Linked DNA regions of Homo sapiens: all the other regions are linked to region 3. The links come from fine-mapping of genetic effects on plasma protein levels. A gene starts in region 3. Each other region holds a variant in brackets. All regions are shown on one strand. Distances are from middle to middle.

Region 1 (8,176 bases), 30 kb after region 3:
TGCATGTGGGCATGTGCTATGTGTGCATGTGTGTGTACATGCATGTGGGCATGTGCTATGTGTGCATGTGTGTGCATGTCCTGTGTGTGCATGTGTGTACATTATGTGGGCATGTGCTGTGTGTGCATGTACATGCATGTGTGCATGTGCTGTATGCGCATGAGTATACATGTGCGCATGTGCTGTGTGTGCAAGTGTGTACATTATGTGGGCATGTGCTGTGTGTGCATGTACATGCATGTGTGCATGTGCTGTGTGTGTGCATGTGTGTGCATGTTCTCTGTGTGAACATGCATGTGGGCATGTGTGTGCATGTGTGAATGTGTGCATGCATGTGAACGTGCTGTGTGGGCATGTGCGTGTGTGTGTGTGTGTACATGCATGTGGGTATGTGCTGTGTGTGTGCATGGGCCTGTGCCTCTGTGTGAATGTGCATATGAACATGTTCATGTACTGTGTGTATGTGTGCACATATGGGCATGTTCTGCATGTGTGCACAGGCCTGCACATCTGTGTATGTGAGCATGCATGTGTGTCTGTGTGAGCATGTGCTGTGTGTGAGCAAGCATGGTTTCTTGACAGCATGCTAGGACAGGGTTTGTCTTCTTGCTTATCTTTAACAAGAATATACCTGTTCTTTTAGCAATAGGGTACTGTTGCCCTTTTGGCCTACAAAAGCCATTTCTTCTCCTAATATCTTGATAGATATGTTGAGTGCTGTTGTATCTGTGTGTAACTTTGTTAATTTTCTCTAACATAAAAGCAGAGGCTTTTCACCAGGGCACCAGGCTGGCCTCTGGTGGTGACCAGGGGATCCAACCCCCAAGCCCAGCTCCACTGCCCACAGGCGAGTCACCTGGGGCCACTCCTTCCAATTTAGTGCACAGCAGCCTTCTGCTCAATGAAGGGGTCCGTTCTTGGAACCTAGAACCTGTGGTGTGGAGCCTCTGCTTTTGTTATCTTCTAAAAGTTCTAAAAGTTCATGATCTTAAGACCTTGATGATAATCCAAGATCTGAATTCTAAAGCGTCTTTCATTGTTTACTTTTAGGATGAGGAAGTACAGACAATTGGTCAGATAGAACTGTGCCTCACTAAGCAAGACCAGCAGCTGCAAAACTGCACCGAGCCGGGGGAGCAGCCGTCCCCCAAGCAGGAAGTCTGGCTGGCAAATGGGGCCGCCGAGAGC[C/T]GGGGTCTGAGAGTCTGTGAAGATGGCCCAGTCTTCTATCCCCCACCTAAAAAGACCAAGCATTGATGCCCAAGTTTTGGAAATATTCTGTTTTAAAAAGCAAGAGAAATTCACAAACTGCAGCTTTCTAAAAAACAACTCCAAAGTGAAGTCTGTTTATTTTGCTGTTTCCCCTCCATGCCTGTGAATTGGATGTTGTGGTCCCTGTAGAGTGAGTGCATGTGGCGTACACGGGGAGAAAGGAGCTCTCCCACGCCTGAGTGGCTGTTTTGTGCTTGGGATAAAGCTCACAGATTGTTTTTTTTTTTCTCTATTAAACTCTTCAGTGCCCTGGTAGATCAGGCAGGCATACTTGGAATTTAGACAGATGGCACCGATTCAGGGGACTCTCTTGCTCGAGTTTTCCCCTCGGAGCCTGTTGCCTTCTTGGCGCAGGGACCCTGTCAAGACGAAGAGCTCCACGCATGGCAGGAGCCCACGCTGATGCCTGGTGGGCCTGGGGGGTGTCTCTAGCTCAGACTGGGTCTGTTCCATGTGACCAGAGCCCCAGGACATCGTTCCTTAGCCAGCTGCTCCGTTGTTGGAGGCCTGGTGTGGTCACAGGTGTGTCCTAGAACGGTGACTTTGCCCCTCCTGCCCTAGGAGATTTGGGTGTATTCACAGAGCAGCCATCTCCTGTCTCCGTCAGAGCAGTCTCTTCCAGGTTACTGGAAGGTCAGTTTCTGTCAGGCCTCACTTCCTTCTTATCAGAGGGTAGCCAGGTCCCTGCACTGGTATCTATTTAGAAATGTACATGGAGCCCCCAGCGAAATGTGCCTACATTGTGTGTTCCAGAACCGGAGGTACCCTTACCTTCTAGATATGTGATGACATGGCTCTCACGTCAGGCAGACTGCTGCACCCACGCTCTCGGCCTGCCGTGCAGGGATTTCACTCGTGGAGTGAGGCATCTGGGGGCTGTGCAGTGAGGAGCTTTCCATGTGTTGTTAAGACAACCTGTTAGCATTGTCTTCTCCCGCGTCTCCTGGCCTCTTCTCTCTTTAAATCCTTTTCTCTGTTTGTCTTAATCACATTAACGTCCTATTTATGTTTTATTCAATATACATTTAAAATAGAACTTACTATGTGCCAGGCATTGTGTTCAACACGTGAAATATTTAATCCTTAGAATAACCATATTGTCAGCATAATTTACAAAAAAAAAAAAAACAGCTGTATCAATGCCTGTGAATATTCGGCTTTACTCGCCCATTTAAAGAAGAGATTTTCAAATTGGCTCAAACCAAAACCTCACTTCATGGTGTCTACAAGACAGTCTGAAATGCAGAATGTTCAGAGAGAGACAAAGGTTTACCAGGCAGATGGGACGGTGAGAAAGTAGGTGTCGCAGTCCTGATCCTAGACTCAGTGGCCTCTGCGTCCCCCGCAGGCATTAAAGGAGACACAGGACGGCCTCTGGCCCTCTGGAAACAAGCTCTGCAGTAAGAGCCTGAGACAGGCAGCACCCAGCCAGGCCTGACAGCTTCTGCAGACAGACAGAGTGAGATGATGGGGGATTTGATGGAAGCAGTCCCTGTATTTTGTCTCTTCTGTAATGGAGGAGCTGAGCCCTCTTCTGCAAGCTGTGGGGAAGGCTAGCGGAGCCCAAGGGTCCAGGGTCCCCACCTTGTCATTGTCCCTCGGCCCTTCTCTGAGCTCATTTCTGTCTCCAGTGTTTTTCTGTTGGCTTGGCAGGGCAGGATTTGTTTCTGTCGGGAACTGATGATTTGTGTTTTGATGCCTGTGAGAGGGACAAGATCTGATTTGTTTTGCACCTGGAAGGGCGTGATTTCCTGCATTTGCTCTGCGTCCTCAGGGAGTGGGTGTACTTTAGAGTTGGACTCTTAAGCCTCAGAGTCCTTTAAATGATGTCAATTCTTTTTTTTTTTTTTTTTTTTTTTGAGTCATTTTGCGAACACAGGGATCAAGGCTTGGGTTTTATCTTCATTATTCCCAGAGGAGCTGGTGAATTTGAACAGACTTCCTATTCAAATTGCATTTATTTTATAGCCTTGGGGGGTCAAGGAAAGCAGCTCTTCAGAGGCTGTCTGCAGTCGGCTGGCCTTTGCGGTTTTTAAAGAAGCCATTCTTTTTTTTAAGTAGCGTGTATTTATTATATGAGTGTGAGCATTTGAGAGCGGATGGGGACGCCAACAAGGTAGCATCCTGGTGGGAGGCATGGGCTGCGGAGTGCTGGTTTCCTGCCATTGTCACGTCAGCTAAATGGAAGAAGGCACTGGTGAGGGGCTGGATGGTTCAAAACATGAGCACAAGCAAATGCTTGGCTCTCTTAATATTCCTATTTTGGCCTAGAGCTCAGGAGCAGGTAGAACATGAGCGTTTGATAACCTGCCTCAGATCATGTAAGTATAAGGCACTTATGAGCCGCAGGAGACAGAAGGGGAAGACTCTGCGTTTAAGGTTCAGTGATGGAGATCAGATCCAAGCACATGTTTTTACATCATTAAACAAGTAGGTCGTGCATTTTCCAGATTCAACTCAGGAAGATGCAACTCTGACCACACGGTTCTCGCTGTAACTGGGCGGAGGTGACTGAGAAATGCCTCCCATGTGAGCGGGGTCTCAGGCTCGTATGTGTGGAAGGAGGAGCAGGCCAGGCTCTGGGATCAGAGCTGGGGGTACAAGTGTCTCCCAGGGGGACAAAGGAGCAGGCGCATCTCAGGATGGAGAGCAGCCAGGAGGGGCAGCTGGCCCGGGTCTCAGCCAGAGCAGGCGTCTGCCTGGAGCATCTCTGCGGCACCATGGAAAAGAGGACCCGTGGACTAGGCCACAGGGATGAGTGGAACTTATGGTGGAAAAAGACACCATAGGTAAAAGCGAGACAAGAAAACCAGGTTCCCATGAAACTCCTTCAGACCAGCCCCTTCTCAGCAGGGCTATTGCTGTACCCAAGAGCATTTCTCTTGGCCTGGGAGGGGACAATGCTTTGTCACCTGGAAAGCAATCCCTCTCTCCAAGCTAGTAGTGGGAGATCATTATGCGCTTGAATAACTAACAGTAGCAATTGTATCATATTCAGAACTAGATATCTTTTCTTTTCTTTTCTTTTTTTTTTTTTTTGAGACTGAGTCTCACTCTGTCGCCCAGGCTGGAGTGCAGTGGTGCGATCTCGGCTCACTGCAACCTCTGTCTCCTGGGTTCAAGCAATTCTTCTGCCTCAGCCTCCCGAGTAGCTGGGACTAGGCACGCCACCATGCCCGGCTATTTTTTGTATTTTTAGTAGAGTTGGGGTTTCACTGTGTTGGCCAGGCTGGTCTGGAACTCCTGACCTCAGGTGATCTGCCTGCCTCAGCCTCCCAGAGTGCTAGGATTATAGGTGTGAGCCACCGCGCCTGGCCCAGGTATCTTATCTTTCCACCGAAACTTTTGCCTCCATCTCGGTGAATGACATCACCATCCGCTTATTCCAGGTAGAAACCTCAAAGTGAACTGGAAACTTTTTAAAAAAATTTTGCCTAAATTGTGAAAGTATTCTGAATTATATTCAGCTTATCCTTCTCATTACTGACTTAGTTCAAGCCTCAGTCTCCCATCTGGGCCATGCATTGACTGCCACGCCACCTGACTGTCAGTGCTGGACGCTGGCACCGTGTTTGTGCCACTCTCCGTAACCAACCATGGCTCTCTGCTCCCAGATCACACCTCCCCAGTATGGCGGCTCAGGGACATTCCCTCAATCCCTCCTGCCCTGTTGGCAGTGCCTCCACCCACTCCCCACAGCCCATGAGGGCTCTGCTTAGCACTTCCTTGTGCCTGGATTCTCCGCGCAGTTTGGGTGGCCTGGAGTGCTCTTCTGCTCACCTAGTTTAGCAAGTTCCATGGGATATCAACACCCAGTTCCATGGTTGGCCGTTAAGAGTTCTTTTGCAGTCCTGGGTGGCTCTGCGCCTCCACGCCCAGGGACCAGGGCCTCTTCTCTTCCAGCTCTTGTTGTGTTACATAGAAGATGCCAGCTGGATGGCACAGGGGAGGGCCGTACAGTGTAGATGCGGACAATGTGGCATAGGTGAGGACTGGACAGCAGAGACAGTGGCTGCATGATGGAGGTGAGGGCTGGACGGGGGAGGCAAGGGCTGGACCGGGGAGGTGAGGGCTGGACAGGGGAGGTGAGGGCTGGGCAGTATAGATGAGGCCTGGGTGGCAGAGGTGAGGGCTGTGCAGTGTAGGTGAGGACGGGCTGGACAGGGGAGGTGAGGGCTAGGCAGTGTAGATGAGGCCTGGGTGGCAGGAATGATGCCTGGATGGAGGAAGTGAGAGCTGGGTGGCTTGAGTGAGGGCTAGATGGCATGGGTGAGGGCTAAGTGGCATAGATGAGGCCTGGGCAGCGGAGACATGGACTGCGCATCGTAGGTGTCGGCTGGACAGCAAGGGTGATGCCTGGACAGCAGAGGTGAGGGCTGGGCGGCAGGAGTGAGGGCTGGGCGGCAGGAGTGAGGGCTGGATGGCGTAGATGAGGCCTGGGCAGCAGAGGTGAGGGCTGTGCTGTTCCGGTTTTGGGCTAGACGGCAGGGAGAATGCCTAGATGACTGGGTAGAGGCCTGGGTGGGAGAAGTGAGGTCTGGACACTGTGGGTGAGGGCTGGATGGCGTAGATGAGGCCTGCGCGGTGGAGGTGAGGCCTGTACTTCTCCTGCCACTAAATCAAGAGCTGTTTATTGATTCATTCCACACTTTTTTCAACCCTTCCTATGAGCCGCCTCTCTTCTAGGCACTGGGACATGGCCATAAGCAGGGATCTTTTCCTCTTGGGCCCACTCCAAGAGTGGTGGCATATGCCACCATGCCCGGCTAATTTTGTATTTTTAGTAGAGATGGGTTTTCTCCATGTTGGTCACGCTGGTCTCAAACTCCCGACCTCGGGTGATCCACCTGCCTCAGCCTCCCAAAGTGCAGGGCAACAGACGGCAAGGGAAAAGAGGAGCATAGCTGGTGCATTTGATGCTGGTAGGTTGGAGGGAGGGAGGAGGTCAGAGTTATGAAGGCGGCCAGGGAAGGCTTCCTCGGAACCTGAAGAAAGGGAGACAGCAACTGCAGGGAAGGATCTGTGGGCCCTAATGGCCACGTCACACTACAAAGGCCCGGACTTTGTCCAACTCGCTTCTGTGCTCCATGAGTGCACCTGTGTCTGAGGCACATCAGCTCTAAGCCAGTGTTCTCTAGTGATGGAGTGAATAAATGAATAAAATAGAAAAGAGAGGCCGGGCGTGGTGGCTCATGCCTGTAATACCAGCACTTTGGGAGGCCAAGGCAGGCGGATCCCAAGGTCAGGAGTTCGAGACCAGCCTGGACAGTATGGTGAAACTCCATCTCTACTAAAAATACAAAAATTGGCCGGGCATGGTGGCGGGCACCTGTAGTCCCAGCTACTCGGGAGGCTGAGGCAGGAGAATGAATCACTTGAAGCCAGGAGGCAGAGGTTGCAGTGAGCCGAAATCACACCATTGCACTCCAGTCTGGATGACAGAGCAAGACTCCGTTTCAAAAAAAGAAAAAAAGAGAATGCAGCACTGGTCCCAGTGGAAGGTGCCTGCTGTTGGCTTCTCACCACGCCCAGATGAGGAAACATGCAGATCGCCTGTTTTCACTTTTTGTTTCTGCGAACTTTGGATCAGGAATAAAAATAATTTAATGCAGGTCCTAAGGCAGCTGAGAATTGTAATGTAAAATATTTTCAGAATTCAACTATATTGGCTAGATCTATCACTGCAGAAGGCTGGAAAAGACTCAGAAGTTAAAATACTACTTTTCCTCACAAGCTCTAGCTCCTGAAATGAAATTACCAGGATACAATCACAGATATGAAGTCAGTATTTGGGCGTCTATAGAAAAGAAGTCCATTGCATTGCTTATGGGATGAGCTACGTTTCCCATAGAAGGGGCAGTAGTGAGGGTTTTCTTATCTGAAGCAAAATCTCTGACAGATGATGAGAAATGCAGTTTTATGTCATTTTTTTTCTGATAAGAATTCTATTTTTTTTTTCTGAGTGACTGTAATGGGCCTTCCATTTATTTTAGACAAAAAAGACAGAATTAGCATTTTAGGCTCAGATGATAGTTATTAGAAAGTTTGAGATGGGCCAGGCGCAGTGGCTTATACCTGTAATCCTAGCACCTTGGGAGGCCGAGGTGGGCGGATCACTTGAGGTCAAGCGTTCAAGACCACCCTGGCCAACAGGACGAAACCCTATCTCTACTAAAAATACATTAGCTGGGTGTGGTGGCGGGTGTCTGCAATCCCAGCTACTCAGGAGGCTGAGGTGAGAGGATGGCTTGAACCCAGGAGGTGGAGGCTGCAGTGAGCCGAGACTGTACTCAAGCTTGGGCAACAGAGTAAGACTCTGTCTCAAAAAAAAAAAAAAAAAAAAAGGCCGGGCCTGGTGGCTCACGCCTGTAATCCCAGCCCTCTGGGAGGCTGGAGGTTGCAGTGAGTGGAGATTGCGCCACTGCGCTCCACCCTCCAGCCTGGGCAACAGAGTGAGACTCCATCTCCAAAAGAAAGTTTGAGATGGATAAAGTTAAGATCCATTAAATGCTGTATGGACTTTATGCTGACGTGCTTTTCACATTTCAGACCTGTGCATTCTTATGCATTTACATTCCCTTTATTTGAGGGAGCAAGAATTACACAATCACCTTTTCCTACCCGCTTTTAACACTGAGAAAAGTCTGCAGAGTGACAGTGGCCCATTTTTACCAGCAAAGACATTGAACCTGGCGTGTACAGCTTTGGTGGTTGGTACCTGTCACCATCTGCTCTTCTGTCTTGATGACCATATGTCTTGGACTGCACCCTGAGATGTGGGCTGCTCGTGCTGCCCCAGTACTGAACACAGCTACTTGAGCATAGTAGGTGTTTTGAAAATATTTAACCTGAATTGAGAAAAGATAGTCAGCAGTGGCCCAAAGATAACAACATACATCAAAAGTCA
Region 2 (8,181 bases), 75 kb before region 3:
TCTACACAGAAGGCTTTAGAAAATGCTTCCTGATGAAGTACAGTGACTGTCAAAGTCCAATCTATGTAAATGGCAAAATTATCTAAATTTAAGCTTTTAAGTGAAAACTCCTAGGAACATTGATGTGCCAAACCCAGTGAGTAGGACCCAGTGAGAAGCAGTCTAACAAAGCCCAGACTCCTGGACGCCATCCAAGGCCCCCAATGGCAAAGGGATGCCACACCTCCTCTTCAACCCACGTCATTTCACAAATCCTAGTTTAACAGTCATTTCTTCGAGTCCTCTCCCTCATATTTAAAGAATCCTTCATAGTTTCTTTGGTATAACTTTAAAGCAACATTCTTCAGGCCTCTTTAGGATGATGCAGGGTGAAAAGAGAAAGCTAAATTTATAATTATAAGGGTATATAATACATCAGGAATTAGAGAAGTGCTTTATATATTATCATTTAACCTTCAAAATAATCCTATCACATAGGTATTAATACTTCCATCTTACAAGTAAAGAAACTGAGAGTCAAAGGTTAAAGCTTAAATAAGAAAATATATGAAAGAATAAGAATGCAAACACGGATGCTGCTGACTTAGATTGTGTGGTTGCATTGTAAACGCTACCTCTCTCAAAGGCCTTCTCCCTGTGTGACAATCACAGCGCTTGGAGAATCCCACCATGTTCTGGAAAGCAAGTCCCCACCCAGCCATGGCAACCTCCAACCTGACTGGTAGACTCCTCTGAGCTGGGGACAGCTTGAAGTGGGTACTGACAGGTGACCCTGCAATGCTACAGCTCACCATCGAAGGATCTTCTGTTCTCCACCCACATAAAAAGGTAAAGTTTGGATCTCAAATACGGACTCTAACTTTATGGCCTACTGTCTTGTCTCCTGTGGATTTTAGCCCAGTCTGGCTTGCCTGTTCAGATGTCACAACTGGCCAAGATGACCACACTCTCTGCACTCCAGGCTCAGCTTCCTCCTGTGATCACAGTACCCTATACTGACTTCCACCTATGGCACCAGGTGGTCAATTCTCACTAAGCCTGACCCACCCTGATCCCTCTTAATCCACAGCAATCCCAGTGCCCCAGGAATAATCCTCAGGCATTTCAGCAGCGAGACTTGCATACCAAAGGAAGTGACAACCAAAACCAATCTTACACATTCATCAAAGACATTCTTTATAAACTCGAGCCAGGTCTCTGTCATGACTTTTCATAATTTTCAACTGTTTTTCTACTAATTAGTATGAATTTTGAAGCTTTACAGTAAATCGACAAATAGGTTAAAAAAAAAAAGCACTCTATGGGAAATGCAGAACACCATACCTTATCACTGGTATTGATGTCATCTATTTCCACAGAAAGGTCTTCTTCTATCTCTTCACCAATACTTATCTCACTTTTCTCTGAGCGATGGCTGGTACTAATTTCAGAAGGGGAAAAAAAAATAAGAACTCTGAAAATAAACATTTAAAGAGATTACTATTCTTTAAACATTCAGATATTTCTTTTAATCCTTTAAGTAAAATATAATATTAACTATAATTAATTTCATACATATTGTCTTGCTTGACCCTTAAAATAATGTAGCAAGGGCAGCAGCAGTCAAGTCAATGTAACAGATGAGGAGACAAAGGTTCAAAGCAGTGACTTTGGTCACAATAGCAAGAAAGAAACAAACCCAGATTTTTACAATTTCATCTACTACATCATGCTCTTTCTCAAAAACTGTATAATAAATTATAAAAAAAAATACAGACTTCCAATTGGAAAGATAACCTGTCAATTAAATAAAATTCTCAGGCATCTAATTTAAAATTTCGAATCATATCCACAACAAATATTACTTCTACATTACATATTATCTTTCTGTGTATAAGAAAGGAATCGACAGGGCATGGTGGTTCTCGTCTGTAATCCCAGCACTTTGGGAGGCCCAGGTGGGTGGATCACGAGGTCAGGAGTTCGAGACCAGCCTGGCCAACACGACAAAACCCTGTCTCTACCAAAAATACAAAAATTAGCCAGGCGTAGTGGCACGCACCTATAATCCCAGCTACATGGGAAGCTGAGGCAGGAGAATGGCTTGAACCCGGGAGAAGGAGGTTGCAGTGAGCCCAGATCGCACCACTGCACTCCAGCGTGGGCAACAGAGTGAGACTCTGTCTCAAAAAAAAAAAAAAAAAAAAAAAAAAAAAGAGAATGGCAATCTTATTAGGGCAGACCACATATCCACATATTAGGAAATGTGATCTGAATCAAAAAACTAATTTGAGAGCATAATTATTTTAGGTCAATTTTGAGACAATTCCCGCCACAAAAAGGTATGGAAGGAAGAGAAAATCAGCACTTATGACACGGCAACTGAACTGCTTCTAAATGACTTCTCAGTTAATTCTTCAATTGTTTCTCTTCTTCTTACCAAGTTTCCTGAACATAATGTGACTGTCTATATTCTAATGTAAAATCAAAAACATGCTCTAAAATCAAATATTTAATTTTGGATTAACTATCTTTTCTTCATCTTCAATCAATATGAACAACAGAATCAAATACATTAAAATAAGCACCAAATGTAATTTTGTCTTGTCTGTGTTCGGAAATTGTTTACAAATAACGTATATATTTATATATTTGCCCAATAGTTTTTCTTACCTATTAAAATCATCAACATAGTCATCATCTTCTCCAGTTCCTGATAAGTTTAAGAAAAGATATGTTATATCTAATGTGCGTCACAATTTACCTACCATTAAACACACATTTCCTTAAAAAAAATTAATTATATTGCATCATTTAAAAAGTCCCAGACTAGAAATAACATTTTAAGCATATATAATATGAAGACAAATGACAAATGAAATACCTAAGAAATAATAAACTGTTACAAGTGACTATAAAATGTGGTTAACACCTCATCTTTACTCCGGGTACTCTAAGGCAATTAACATGGGGCACACTCACCATTAATAAGGTCCCTTGACTTAATGGCGTATAGCAATAGCAAGTCATCATCAATCCCCTCTAGGTACTAGATGAACTACTGAGCGTTTTCAACATGCTAATTGTTTTGTTATAAAAGTTAAAAAACACTCATGAGGTGTGAAGAGGCCATGAAGCACAGCAAATAAGGGCACCTTCAGTCAGACAGAGCCAGGCTCAGGCCTCAGACCTGCCACTCAACAGCTCTGTGACCTGGGAATGTGAGGTGCCCTTTCTGGGCCATGTCCTCTGCTCTGACGTACAGCCAAAGCCACACCAATCAGAGTTAACATAAGGATTCAGGTACATGATGTGCTTAACAGAGACCTTGGTCCACAGTAAGATCTTAATAAAAGGCAACTGAATGAAGGTGGGATGGTGAATAGTGAGGCAGTGTTACCAGTTTCTCAAAGTGCACCACAAGCCTCTGACAGAGGGGGCACCTTCAGATCAACTTAAGGCTATAAAGGACAAATTTGCAAATCAGCAGCCCTTCCCTCCCAGGACTTCTGAGGGCTAGATGAGGAAAAAGAGTTGTCAGCCTCAAAGCAGACTTGGAGGCACATGAGAGCCAACTTAAAATGTGAATGGATGGCCTATGAAAGACCCAGGAAGCATGTACAGCCACATGCAGAAGATGCAGATCACAAAAAGAAGACCTGGCATGACAGAGAGCCGTTCAAAGACCCTGCGGGCCTTGTCCTCGATCTTCCCTCAGATAAGGCTGGACTGTCTCTAAATCGGTCAGACTGCTGAGGGGATTCAAGCTCTGTCCAGACAGTTAGACAATGTAATTCTCTTACAGCCAAATCATATGATTAATTTATCAACCAGCTGAGTGATGACTAGGTCCCCTAGAGGTATAGCAATGACTAAGATGGTATCTCTGATCTCAGGGAGCAAACACTCTAGTGAAGAGGAACAGTGGAACAAACCAAATACTGCTAGTGCAATTGGGAAGAACTCCAAGGTAGCAACTGAGTGGAAACCTAGGTTGCAGAGGTACAAATTACTGGGGACAGTGTGTTCCAAGAGGAAACATGTGAAAGGCCCTGAGGTGGGGGAGGGTGCGGTGGTTTGAAAAACCACCAGTGCAGCCCAGAGCAGTGACGCACATCTGTAATCCAGCTACTTGGGAGGCCAAGGCAGGAGGATCACTTGCACCCAGGAGTTTGAGACCAGCCTGGGCAACATTGCAAGACCCCCTCAAAAATTAAAAATTTATTTTATTTTTTAAATTTTAATTTTTAAAATACTGTCTCAAAAAAAATGTAAAAACCACCAGTAAGGAAGCCATACAACCATAAAACAATGAATTTGGGGGACAGAATGGGTGGAGGAAGAAAAAAGGAGTGGCGATCAGAAGGGTTGGCAGAAGCCGGATCATTAGGGCTTGGTTGGTTGCAATAAGGATCTTAGCCTGAATACAAAGGGAAGCTTTGTACAAAGGGATGGGGTGGGGTGGGGGAAGACAGGAGTGAAAAAGTGCAGGGTAGCACTACCTCACTTCTGTTTTCCCAGAGATAATCGTACCACCGCCAGAAGAAATATGTGTACAGGAGGCAACAATGAAAGTAAGGAAAGCAGAAGGCTGTCAGAAAGTCCAGGCCAAAGAGAACAGGGGTAAAAGGCTTGGGTCAAGGCAGGTGTCCCACAGATAAGACAGACGGGTAGATGATATGGGGTGGGAAGAATATCAGCAAACGAAGAAAACATGAGTCCTTGTTCCTGCTACATCCAAACCTTGCCCAGTAATGAACTGGAAATCCCTGATCATAAGCAGTCAGGAGGGACATGTCAGGAGCTTCCTCTCCTCTTGAGAATCAAGAGCTCGTCTCCACTGTAGCCTCAAAGGTTAAAGGGCTGCAAGTGCTTGCCAGAAACC[A/G]GGCACTGTCAGGGCCGAGAAGGAGAAGTGGAAATCTGATTAAACAAACTACATATGTGGCTGGTTTGCAAGCGCTAAGTAAAACCAGGAGTGGCAGCTACTAAAATGTCAGCCTCCAAGGACCCATTGTAGTGTTCCTATGTGTGAAGGCCAGTGAGGAGAGCAGAGGTGGACACTGAGCTGAGACAGCGAGGACGGCTGTGGCTGCAATGTGGATTTAAAGAAAGCTAACTGGATTCCCCACCTGGCAGCATTTGTAGCCAATTCAAAACACAAGATTGTCAGGCCTCTGAGCCCAAGCTAAGCCATCATATCCCCAGTGTCCTGCACGTGTACATCCAGATGGCCTGAAGCAATTGAAGATCCACAAAAGAAGTGAAAATAGCCTTAACTGATGACATTCCACCATTGTGATTTGTTTCTGCCCTACCCTAACTGATCAATGTACTTTGTAATCTCCCCCACCCTTAAGAAGGTTCTTTATAATCTCCCCCATGCTTAAGAAGGTTCTTTGTAGTTCTCCCCACCCTTGAGAATGTACTTTGTAAGATCCAACCCCTTCCCTCAAAACATTGCTCTTAACTCCACCACCTATCCCAAAACCTGTAAGAACTAATGATAATCCACAACCCTTTGCTGACTCTCTTTTCGGACTCAGCCTGCCTGCACCCAGGTGAAATAAACAGCCATGTTGCTCACACAAAGACTGTTTGGTGGTCTCTTCAGACAGACACATGAGACAAAGATATTTACTGAATAATGTGCTATAACACATCAGATTCTGACTTCTTGGTTATGTATTGTTTAGTATTACAATAATTTAAGCCAGTGTCAAAATGATTAACAGAATACATACAGGTTAAGCATCCCAAATTCAAAAATTTGAAAACCAAACTTGAATAAAATCCAGAACTTTCTGAGTGGGGACGTAATGCTCAGAGAAACTGCTCATTGGAGCATTTCGGACTTTCAGATTTTCAGATTTGGGATGCTCATCTGGTAAGAAAAATGCAAACATTTCAAAATCCAAAAAAATCCAGACTCTGAAATACTTCTGGTCCCAAGCATTTGCATTAAGGGATACTCAACCTGTACTACATTACTTTAAGGGTCAGCAAATTTTGGCCCTCAGGCCAAGGATTCTTGTTTTCTTCATTTTTTGACAGTCTCTCCTCCCCATCCCATACCCTCTGTCTTATCTGCCCTTACCCCAGTCATCTTTGGCCCGGACTTCCTGACAGCCTTCTGCTTTCCTTACTTTCATTCTTGCCTCTGGCTGATGACCTGCTTTTGTTCAGCCTGTGAACTAAGAATGGCTTTTACATTTTTAAAGATTGTTAAAAAACAAAAAAACAAAAAAACACACAAAGACTATGTGAGAGACAGTACATGCCATCCACAAACCCTAAAATATAGACTATTTGGCCCTTTACGGAAAAAGCTTAGCAACTCTTGCTTTAAATATGCAAAGTACCTATCTATAAACACTCCTTTTGGGCACCTTTAATTAATATTTGTCTGCCAAACTAAAATAGATGGTGCTCTAAAGCTTTATTTGTAGATTATTTATTTGGAACTCAGAATTTATGTTCCCATTGAAATGATTATTTCAATATGTCTAAATAACATACAGGCAGTAAAACACAGTGGTGAGGGCTCTGTGTGATGCATCAGGACTCTAAAAGCAGCATGACCTTGGGCAAGTTACTTAACCTAGATTCTTCATCTGTAAAAATGGAGATAGTAATAAAACCTACCTCATAGGATATGAATTAAATAAAATAATTCCTTGGTACAGTGCCAGGCACTTACCACTAACATCATTATTCTCCTAGGCTGGTCCACTAACATCTGTCTACATATTACTCAAAATACCTAGAGTACTGTATATTTAAAATGTAAACAACCCAAACAGAAAACAACATTGTTGCAAAACGAAATAAAACTTTATTTCTACTGAATCCTAATGCCTAGCTAAATGACAAACATCCAGCTAGTGAACTGGTAGTTCTCACCTGCATAACTACCCCAATTCCAACCCGAGATATGCCTAAGTCCCAAGACAAAGTGAAGTGAAGGAGCACACCACCCTCCTGCCTGTACCCAGCAACTCTGCAGCCCCAGCAACGACATTCCCTCCTGAGGATGACAATTCTCGGCAGCTCCCCACTCAGAAACAGGAGGGAAAACCCTCGCTTTGGTAAGAGAATAGAGCAGTCAGAGAAAAAAGCTAAAAGGTTTGGCAACAGAGTGAAACACCACAAAAGTGAAAAAAACAGAACACAAAGGGGACAAGGCGGCCATCACGGTGCAGAGGTCAGGAGTAAAGTCTCTGGTGGCAGTTAGCCACTGAGATTTAGTGGAAAAGAACATCTAATGGCAACCATGACCACAGCTGACAGGAAAAGCACAAGGGAGGGAAAGGAGGCAGGCCCACCTAGCTGGCCAGCCAGCAACCAGGACGCACAAAGAGCAGATGGCAGCACAACCAGCAACTCAGTTACCAGGACTCCAGGGCACTGTGCGGAACAAGAATCCGGGCAGCTCAGGGAACATTTATTCTTCTGCAAATGGGGGGAAAAGTAACGTAAAAAGAAAACTAACATTTACTAGGCACCTACCATGCCAGCCACTGTACTTTAATTTACATATGAAGAGATATTTAAATCCTATTTACTCTTTAAAACAAGGCAGATGTTATTAGTTCCACTTAACAGATGAGGAAATAGCAGTTTAGTTTATCTCCCTACGCTACCCATCAATCAGTGCCACATCTGAGATGTCACTTCTATCCAACTCCAAGCCCAAGTTCTTTGCACTATCCAGAATGTCTCTCCAGAAGAGGGAAGGGCATTCTCGGAGCTGCCCCTTGGACAGGGCTGGGTTTTAAAAGCAAATGGGGACACACCTTTCTTTCTCCCTAACCTGCCTGTGAAGCTCTTCCAATGCTTCCATGTGAGTGATTACAGACCAGGAAGGGATCCCATCACATCCACAGAGAGCATAGGAAGTGGCCATTGAGAACCTGGCTGCACCGTTTCCTTCAGGTCACCAAGTTTGCCTTTACATAAATGAGTTTGCCTAAAGTATGCCTGTCACACTGCTACAGTCTTGCACAGAACAGAACACTGAATGAGAAATGTGCTCTCAACATATGGCCCAGGGCTCGGTAATGTTCACATCGACACTCTTACTTCCATAGGAATGAATGTACTTACATGGCAGGCTTACCAACTTCTGCTCCATAGAACAGAACTGAACACATCTCACAATTTTTCTTTCAATAAGTCTGTTTCCCCACTAGACTGAATTCTCTG
Region 3 (8,165 bases):
AAAGAGTTCCACAAAATGTGTACCACAGTGGCCAGGCTGGCATGGCAAGGCCAGAGGTGCTGGGACACCCTGACCAACATGGTCAAACTCCGTCTCTACTAAAAACACAAAAATTAGCCGGACGTGGTGGCACACGCCTGTAATCCCAGCTACTCGGGAGGCTAGGGCAGGAGAATTGTTTGAGCCTGGGAGACGGAGGTTGCTGTGAGCCGAGATTGTGCCACTGACTGCACTCCAGCCTGGCTGACAGAGTGAGACTCTGTCTCAAAAAAAAAAAAAGAAAAAGAAAAAGAAGAGAAAGGGCAGGGAAACACCCAGCAGCTGGCCTCACTTTCTCAGCAAATAAGTAATTCAGGATGGAAAGGAGTTTTTAAGGTGAGATTCTTTCAAGTGTGACAAAGCTCTTTAGAGCATGAGAATCCTAAACTGTGTAGTTGTGCCACTGCTCTGCCATTGGAATGGCCAGCACCAGATATGGGCTGTTCCTACCGCCTGGGTTCCAGAGTGAAAAATACCGTGGACCACAGTGGCATCTGACGCATAGCCAGCATGGAATATGGGCAAATGAATGATAAATGATCAACTTCCGTTTAAGTGAGACACTGAGATTTGGGGGCGGTGTATTATTGTAGCATAACCCAGCAAAAGCTGGCATGGAAACAGGAAACCTGGAGCTAATGCCAAGAAGAGGTTGTGTGGTGAAAGTATCTTGGTCTCTTCAGAATTAACAAGGATTTAAGGATGTCTGTTCATAGACATGGCTGTTGCCATCCTGTCCCCCTCCCCTCTCCTAAGGACATGTTTCTATACAAGCCAGCAGCATCTTTTAAACCTCATAGTTTGTACCCTTTTACACTATGTTGTGTGAGTCAATGTAATTCCCACTCTGGCCCCTGCCCACCTGCTTGATGCTGGAGCCCTCTTTGTTTTCGTAAAGCTGGGCGGCTTCCAGACCCAAATCCAGCCTTTACAGCCACTGCCTCTTCCCTACGTAGGGTTCCGTTTAGGATCCTGGTAGGTGGACAAGTAGTGAACAAGACAGATGACAGATGCTCCAGGTTCACATCCAAGTTTTGGGGGGTTGAGAGCTTTTCCATTTGGATGTCCTTCTTTAAGAACAAGAAGGTAAAATTGTGAATACGGAATGAGATATGGGGTCTTGGTGGGGCCCATGCCAGCAAGGGGCCTGAAGCTCCTCATTAGCTTCCGATGTGGGGGTGGGGGAGTAGAAGTGGGCAGTACAGGAGGAAGTGACAAGAATTCTCAGGGGTGGGGAGAACTGTGTCGAAAATAAACAAGGAAGTGCAACAGGAAATGACTGGGTGGCTTCTTCAGGCTGGGTAGGACGCTGCTGAATTTATCTGATAAAAATCTCCTCTCTGTGAGTTGTGGAAAGTGGCTTGCTGCGAGAGACCCCCTTCTTCCCCACATAACATAGGTAAGAGTGATAGAAGTGATGCAGCTGGGCGCTGTCTCCAAAAAAAAAAAAAAAAAAAGGAAAAGTGACGGATGCTCCCCTCACTCCACCCCCTACCCATTACCTAGGACAAAGCCAGACACAGATCCTCCAATTCCCATTCTTCACCTCATCAATGATGAGCCAGTCAATAGAAATAACACACTTGTTAAGCAAACTTGGTGAGGCTCCTCTCTTCCCCCGAGGCTGAGGACTTTTGGCCTCATCTTAGCCTGAGTCAGTCCCCCCTGAGAACAGGCTGGCCACGGGGTCAACCTTCTCTGATCTAATGTCCTATGAAGGCAGGTTCTCATCCCACTTCTCCATTCCCAGTTCATTCTTTCTCTCTCTTTCTTTTTCTCTCTTTCTTCTTTCTTTCATTCATTCTTTTTGTTGTTGTTGTTGACCGAGTCTCACTCTGTCGCCCAGGCTGGAGTGCAGTGGCGCGATCTCGGCTCACTGCAACCTCTGCCTCCTGGGTTCAAGCGATTCTCCTGCCTCAGCCTCCAGAGTAGCTGGGATTGAGGGAAGAGAGAGACCCTCTCATATTGTTTTATATTGTTTTATACTCAGTACCTGTTTTAAGAAAAAAACAAGGAAGTGAAATCAAAGACAGGCAGCCCGGCGCCAGGCCCAAAACCGGACCTGGGCCTGCCTGGCCTAAACCTAGTAGTTAAAAATCAACTCATGACTTAGAGACCGATGTTATTCATAGATTCCAGACATTGTATAGAAGAACATTGTGAAACTCCCTGCCCTGTTCTGTTTCTCTCTGACCACCAGTGCATGCAGCCCGTCACGTACCCCTTGCTTGCTCAAATCAATCACGACCCTTTCATGTGAAATCTTTAATGTTGTGAGCCCTTAAAAGGGACAGAAATTGTGCATTCGGGGAGCTCGGATTTTAAGGCAGTAGCTTGCCGATGCTCCCAGCTGAATAAAGCCCTTCCTTCTATAGCTCGGTGTCTGAGAGGTTTTGTCTGCCGCTCCTCCTGCCACAGGATTACAGTCGCGTGCCACCCCCGCCCAGCAAATTTTTGTATTTTTAGTAGGGACAAAAGGCCCCCAGGCCCCTGCAATAATGGTCCTCATAACACCACTCCTCCCCGAGTCCAGATTTGCTTTATATTTGGCAGTGGTCACAACAGCCCTCCTTGACAAGGGGCTGTTTAAACACACCGGACTGTGATTTAAAGGAAAATGAGGATTCTGGGAAGCACTTTTGTTTTAAGAAAATTATTTTTTTAGCTTAAAAGAAAAGAGAAAAAGAACTGTGGCGTGTGCCTATATTCTTGAGAGGAAGGAATGAAAGGAGCCGGAAAGAAACAAATAAGTCGTTAGGGAAAAGGAGAACGAGAATAACACCATGACCTGTAGGAGGTCCTGGAGGAGCTAAGGAGGTGTCAGCCATTTTCCCCCCCCATCTGTTCCACAGGTGGCATTTTATTGAGCACCGACTGTCCCCCATCCACTGTGCTCAGTGGCAGGGACTCAAGGTGGGCAAAATAGACATGGGCCTTGCCTTGCAGTCTAGTGGGAAAAACAGATTAATCATTTAAATATTTTGTTTCAAAGAATGGTAATGCATGCAGGCAAGGTCCAGGCCTGTGGGAGAGCAGGCTACAGGCCCACCTGCTATTTAGACAGTTACCAGTGGCAGAGGACCCCGAGGAAGGCGCAGTTTACTCGACGTGTAAATAGGAATAGCCTTAACTAGCTGTGGGTGTGCGGACAGGGAAGGGAAAGAGGAGAAACATCTGCAGAGACAATGCCGGGTGCACAGCCCGTGGGCGGGGCCGCGGGTGCAGGGGAACCCGTGCCTCTGAAGGGCTGGGAAGGCCAGGGTGTTGGGGGAGGAGACCGGGCCTATGGGACTGGCCCTGGCTACGCCAAGGTGGGGCTGACATGAAGTCCCCTTCATCCGTGGGGGGTGGCCCGTCCCTCTGGGAGGGGATCCCTCACAAGATGACTTCCCAGGTCGCGCCCCGAGGCGGCTCTTTGCTGCCCCCACAGAGATGACTTCCGGGCTCCTGGGGCCCGCGGGGAGGGGCAGGTGAGGCCCAGGGCTGGGTGAGGGCCAGGCCCTTCTAGGAATGTTGGTGCTCCCAGCACCTAGCACCGGGAGACTGGAGAGGTTTCCAGGAGAGTGACCCGAGTAGGTCCCCTCCTAATTCTGGAGCCGTCCCTCGGGCTGCGCAGTGGAGCGCCGAGGTGGCGGGAGGCTGCGGGGAGCCTGGGCGGCCAAGCACCATCTGCAGTCAGGAGCTCCCGGGCAGCTTGCAGGGCGCAGTTTTTGAAAGCGGGTGCTGCGTGCGGACCGCGGGCCTGCAGGGTGCGCGGGTCGGGCTGGGGGCTGTCCCTGGAGAGTAGAGTGGCCCTGGGGCCCGCACGCCCACTTGCTGGCGGGGGATGGCGCAGACACGGGCGGTCCCCCCGAGGGCGGTCCTCACGGGTGGTCTAGGTTAGCTCGGACCCGGGAGTGTGGGAGTGGCGCAGAGCTGCGGGAAAAGGCGCGGGGCGCCTGCGTGGCGAAGGAACACAGCCGCCTGACACGCCCTCAAGGCCCGCGGAGCTGCTCCTGCCTCGGCCTCTCTGAGCCAACCACGGGGCGGGGCGTGAACGCCGGGCGGGGACGTGCCGTTCTGGGGGGCGTGTCCACCGGCGGGGGCGTGCCGTCCTGGGGGCGTGGCTCTCTGCTCCGGTGCAGGCCCGCAGGGCGCCCTGGGCTGGGAGCAACGCGACTGACCGTGGTCGTGGGCGGACGGCGGCTGCAGCGTGGAGGAGCTGGGGTCGCTGTGGGTCGCGAAGCAGAGCCCGGGACGTGCGCGCTTGGTGCACGATCCTGAAGGGGAGCTCCGAGGGGCCCGGGTCGCCAGGGCTGCTGCGGCCATTCCCGGAGCCCGGCGCGGGGCCCGCGAGATACTGGTTTAGGCCGTCCCAGGGCTCCGGGCGCACCCGGTGGCCGCTGCTGCAGCGGAGGGAGCGCGGCGGCGCGGGGGCTCGGAGACAGCGTTTCTCCCGGAAGTCTTCCTCGGGCAGCAGGTGGGAAGTGGGAGCCGGAGCGGCAGCTGGCAGCGTTCTCTCCGCAGGTCGGCACCATGCGCCCTGCAGCCCTGCGCGGGGCCCTGCTGGGCTGCCTCTGCCTGGCGTTGCTTTGCCTGGGCGGTGCGGACAAGCGCCTGCGGTGAGTTACCTTGCGAGGTAAAGTGGGGAGCGTGGGAGCCGGGCCCTAGAGCTTTCCACTGGGTGAAGGCTGCAGCTCTCGGGGTCGGCGGTCGCTGAGCCCCGGGCAGCGACTGGGGAGGGCGGGGGGAGCCGAGCACGCTCCGGGGTGACCCCTGGGAAGAAGTTGGGAAGTTGAGCACGCCTCGGGGTGACCCCTGGAGGGAGTGGGTTGGGGGGAGCCCTTAGCACACTCAGAAGTGACCTCTGGGAAGGAGTGCGATGAGGGGAGTCCTGAGCACGCCCCGGGGTGACCTCTGGGAAGGAGTGGGTTGGGGGGAGCCCTGGGCACGCTCTGGGGTGACTCCTGGGAAGAAGTGGGTTGGGGAGCCCTGAACACTCCCCGGGGTGACCCCTGGGAAGGAGTAGGGGGTAGGGTGAGGTCCTGGGTACACTCCAGCCTGGAGCTGGACTGGAAACTCATCCCACAGACTGCTCCCAGCCTAGGACGCGACAAAGCAGGTGGCAGGCTTGGTGGAGCACTGTTCCTGCACTCGAAGTTCTCTCAGAGGTCGAAGAAGTCGTGGAGGGGACACTTAATTTCAGCTTTCACTGCGGCGGGTGGTGAAACGACGGTTCTTCCTCTTTTTGAGTATCCTGTTCTGAATCCCTTCCCTTGGCTCGCCCTCCGCGTGTGTGTGTGTGTGCGCGTGTGTGTGTGCGCGTGTGTGTGTGTGCGTGTGCGTTTGTGTGTGCGTGTGTGTGTGCGTGCGTGTGCGTGTGCGTGCGTGCGTGTGTGTGCGTGTGTGTCGTGTGTGCGCGTCTGTGCGTGTGTGTCGTGTGTGCGCGTGTGTGTGTGTGCGTGTGTGCGTGTGTGTGCGTGCGTGCGTGTGTGCGCGTGTGTGCGTGCGTGTGTGCGTGCGTGTGTGCGTGTGTGTGTGTGGCAGCCGCCCAAATTAATTAGGGGTAAACAGGCGGTGCTGCAAAGAACTCCAACTTTAATTCTGTGGAAGATACCAATATTTGAATACCATATTATTTCTTTCTATTTGGGTAATGATCGGGTTAATAGGATTTCTTACTTACATAGTAGGTGTGGAAAAGGTGGGTTTTACTTATTTATTTTTTTTTAGACAGTCTTACTCTGTCACTCAGGCTGGAGTACAGTGGCGTGACCTCAGCTCACTGCAACCTCCACCTCCCGGGTTCAAGCGATTCTCCTGCCTCAGCCTCTGAGTAGGTGGGATTACAGATGCACACCACCACGCCTGGCTAATTTTTGTATTTTTAATAGCCAGGCTGGTCTCGAACTTCTGACCTCAGGTGATCCGCCCGCCTCGGCCTCCCAAAGTGCTGGGATTACAGGCGTGAGCCACTGCACCCGGCCAGGGTTTTACTTTTTAAACACCTTAGGTATATATTTTTAATCATGTACATTAAAATGTAGCATTATATTTCAGTGTTCCGGAAAGTGTATTTTCTGAAAAAGAGCTACATTTATGTCCTTATTTATTGGCCATGAGGTTCAGAGCCTCTCACTGGGGAAGTCTGTGGCATGCTGGCCCTTGCTGGCTGAGTGGAAACTGCTAGTTCACACCCAGGTGTGGGACCTTTGAGCTCTCTATGCCCCAGTTTCCTCATCTGTAAAGTAGAAATAGTAACAGTCAGCCTCACAGAGTTGGCTTCAGGAGAAATCAGTTAAGGTACAGAATGTAACTTGGAATGATGTCTGGCTGGAAGTAAACATTAGCATAAAACAGGCTGTCATATGTGGATCCCCCACCCCAGCCCATAATTCATGCAACTGATATGATCGGACAAACTTGAGCAGGCAAGATTTGCGAGAACATGGTTGATTCAGACCACGAGGGCTTCATAGGTCAGCGGGCATTTTCCCAAGTTCTAACTGGTTTTGAGACCTTGGTGATTTTTCTTTCTTCTTTGACTTTCTTTAGCTTCTCCATTACTTTCTCCGTGAATAGGGGAGGGGGGCATCTGTGTGGGAGGGGGTCTCCTGCAGTCACATCACTCTGCCTGGTTTTAGATGGAGAGTTTGTTACAAACGTCTGAGTCTTGGTAGTTTTGTTGTAAGCATATTGATAGTCTCATCTTCCTGGGTGTTGCTAAGCTTTCCAGCCTCAGGTTCCGACTATGTAAAATAAGGTTTTTCACCCAAGGGTAAAAAATGCTTTACCAGCTCCAATTCTCACCCTGCAGCTCATCCTTTTTTTTTTTTTTTGAGACAGGGTCTGGCTGTGTAGCCCAGGTTGGAGTGCAGTGATGTGATCTGGGCTCACTGCATCTTCCACCTCCTGGGCTTAAGCTATCCTCTTGCCTCAGCGCCTTCCAAGTAGCTGGGACTACAGGTTCATGCCACCACACCTGGCTAATTTTTGTAGAGACAGGGTTTCACCATGTTGCCCAGGCTGGTCTTGAACTCCTGAGCTCAAGCAATCCTCCTGCCTCTGCCTCCCAAAGTGCTGGGATTATAGGTGTGAGCCACCACGCTTGAACCCTTTTTTCCTTTTATACTGAGAGCTTGCATAATTAGTTCCAATGTACAACTAAGTTTTCATACCATCTTAACTGTAAATTCTATACAAATTCAACAGGACTCAATTATTTACAAAAGCTAATGTGTGACAACTTGATCTTCTTACTTGGAATCTTCCCTTCTAAAATTTGATTTATCCTGAAGTGTCTGCTTGACTTATATCCTGTGTTGCTGCTGGCTTTTTCCATGTGCATTTTTTGCAAGCTGCTCTTTTTACTTCAGTCTCGTTAAGTCTTGCAGTTCTGGCTAGAGGCCTACTGCCATGAATAAGCTGCCGCTCCACAGTGGCTTCTTTGAAGTCTTAGAGTCAGATGAGTTTCACGGTGTTCAGGTTTGTGATCCAGTGTGGCCCCAGGTTCTGGGTAACACGTGTGATGCAGTGCTGTGTGCATACCATGTCGTGAATAACATTCATGATGCAGTGCACATACCGTGTTCAAGTTAACAGTCCTGGTGGCATCTGAAGTAGCACCCTAAAATCAAATGACACAAATTCTGCAGAGAAGCAAGTGAAGTCTAAAAACTGAGTTGGGGTAGTAACGATAAATAGCGTTATGCTAGTTCAGGTTATGTTTTGTTGCCAAATGAATTACAAAAAACTACCAGGTTTCAGGCTTTTATGGGTTTCACGAATGCAGGGGAGGGATCGTGGGTCTGCATTTCTCTTGAGCATCCTTAGGAGAAAGGTGCTTCGTGGCTCAGTGGCTTCCCTTCAGTGAGGCCCTCCCTGGCTGCACTCCTAGCTTGCCCTGCCTCCGCTTCCCCTCCTCTCCCCTCCTCCCCTTATCCTATTCATGTTCTCCGCCACTCAGCACTGGACGCCACCACACGTGCCTTCTTAGTGTAGGGGTGTACCGCCTTCCTCACGGGAGTGTGTGCAGCAGCAGGGCAGGCAGTGTTCCTCCTCCCACAGCACTCAGTGCTGAATGAATGATTGAAGGGATGGATGGGTGGATGAATTTTTTCTGTAACTTTAAAAAAAGTTCTTGAAAA

Alleles and levels. Positions count from the first base shown, and alleles are read on the strand shown. Strength reflects both the effect of a copy and how common the allele is. Not every link is listed here.
In carriers of allele A in region 2, the plasma level of the protein whose gene starts at base 4,187 in region 3 tends to be higher than with G alone (weak association).

What was found. PIP is the chance, under the fine-mapping model, that this variant and not a neighbour inherited with it causes the effect. Protein levels are from antibody-based Olink assays in UK Biobank. Linkage for the fine-mapping came from a reference panel and not from the study's own genotypes, which makes the PIPs less certain.
Region 1: its variant is fine-mapped to the plasma level of the RNASET2 protein (UK Biobank, PIP 0.98). The variant lies in the coding sequence of RNASET2. If it changes the protein, the assay may bind it differently, which can mimic a change of level.
Region 2: its variant is fine-mapped to the plasma level of the RNASET2 protein (UK Biobank, PIP above 0.99).

Annotation. Positions count from the first base shown.
Region 1 is chr6:166,922,666-166,930,841 of GRCh38, reverse strand. It overlaps RNASET2 (ribonuclease T2), which reads left to right. Exons shown (of 9, transcript NM_003730.6): 9 at 1,051-8,176. The coding sequence ends at 1,254. Among named protein-coding and RNA genes, the nearest start is that of RPS6KA2-AS1, 23 kb to the right of the region's middle. The variant C/T (reference allele first, on the strand shown) is at 1,189.
Region 2 is chr6:167,027,114-167,035,294 of GRCh38, reverse strand. It overlaps CEP43 (centrosomal protein 43), which reads right to left. Exons shown (of 13, transcript NM_007045.4): 11 at 2,653-2,692; 12 at 1,324-1,420. Among named protein-coding and RNA genes, the nearest start is that of CEP43, 32 kb to the right of the region's middle. The variant A/G (reference allele first, on the strand shown) is at 4,865.
Region 3 is chr6:166,952,572-166,960,736 of GRCh38, reverse strand. RNASET2 (ribonuclease T2) reads left to right here and starts at 4,187. Exons shown (of 9, transcript NM_003730.6): 1 at 4,187-4,640. The coding sequence starts at 4,555. RefSeq lists a cis regulatory region at 1,151-1,437, an enhancer at 2,118-2,237 and silencers at 3,202-3,251, 3,522-3,621, 3,662-4,421.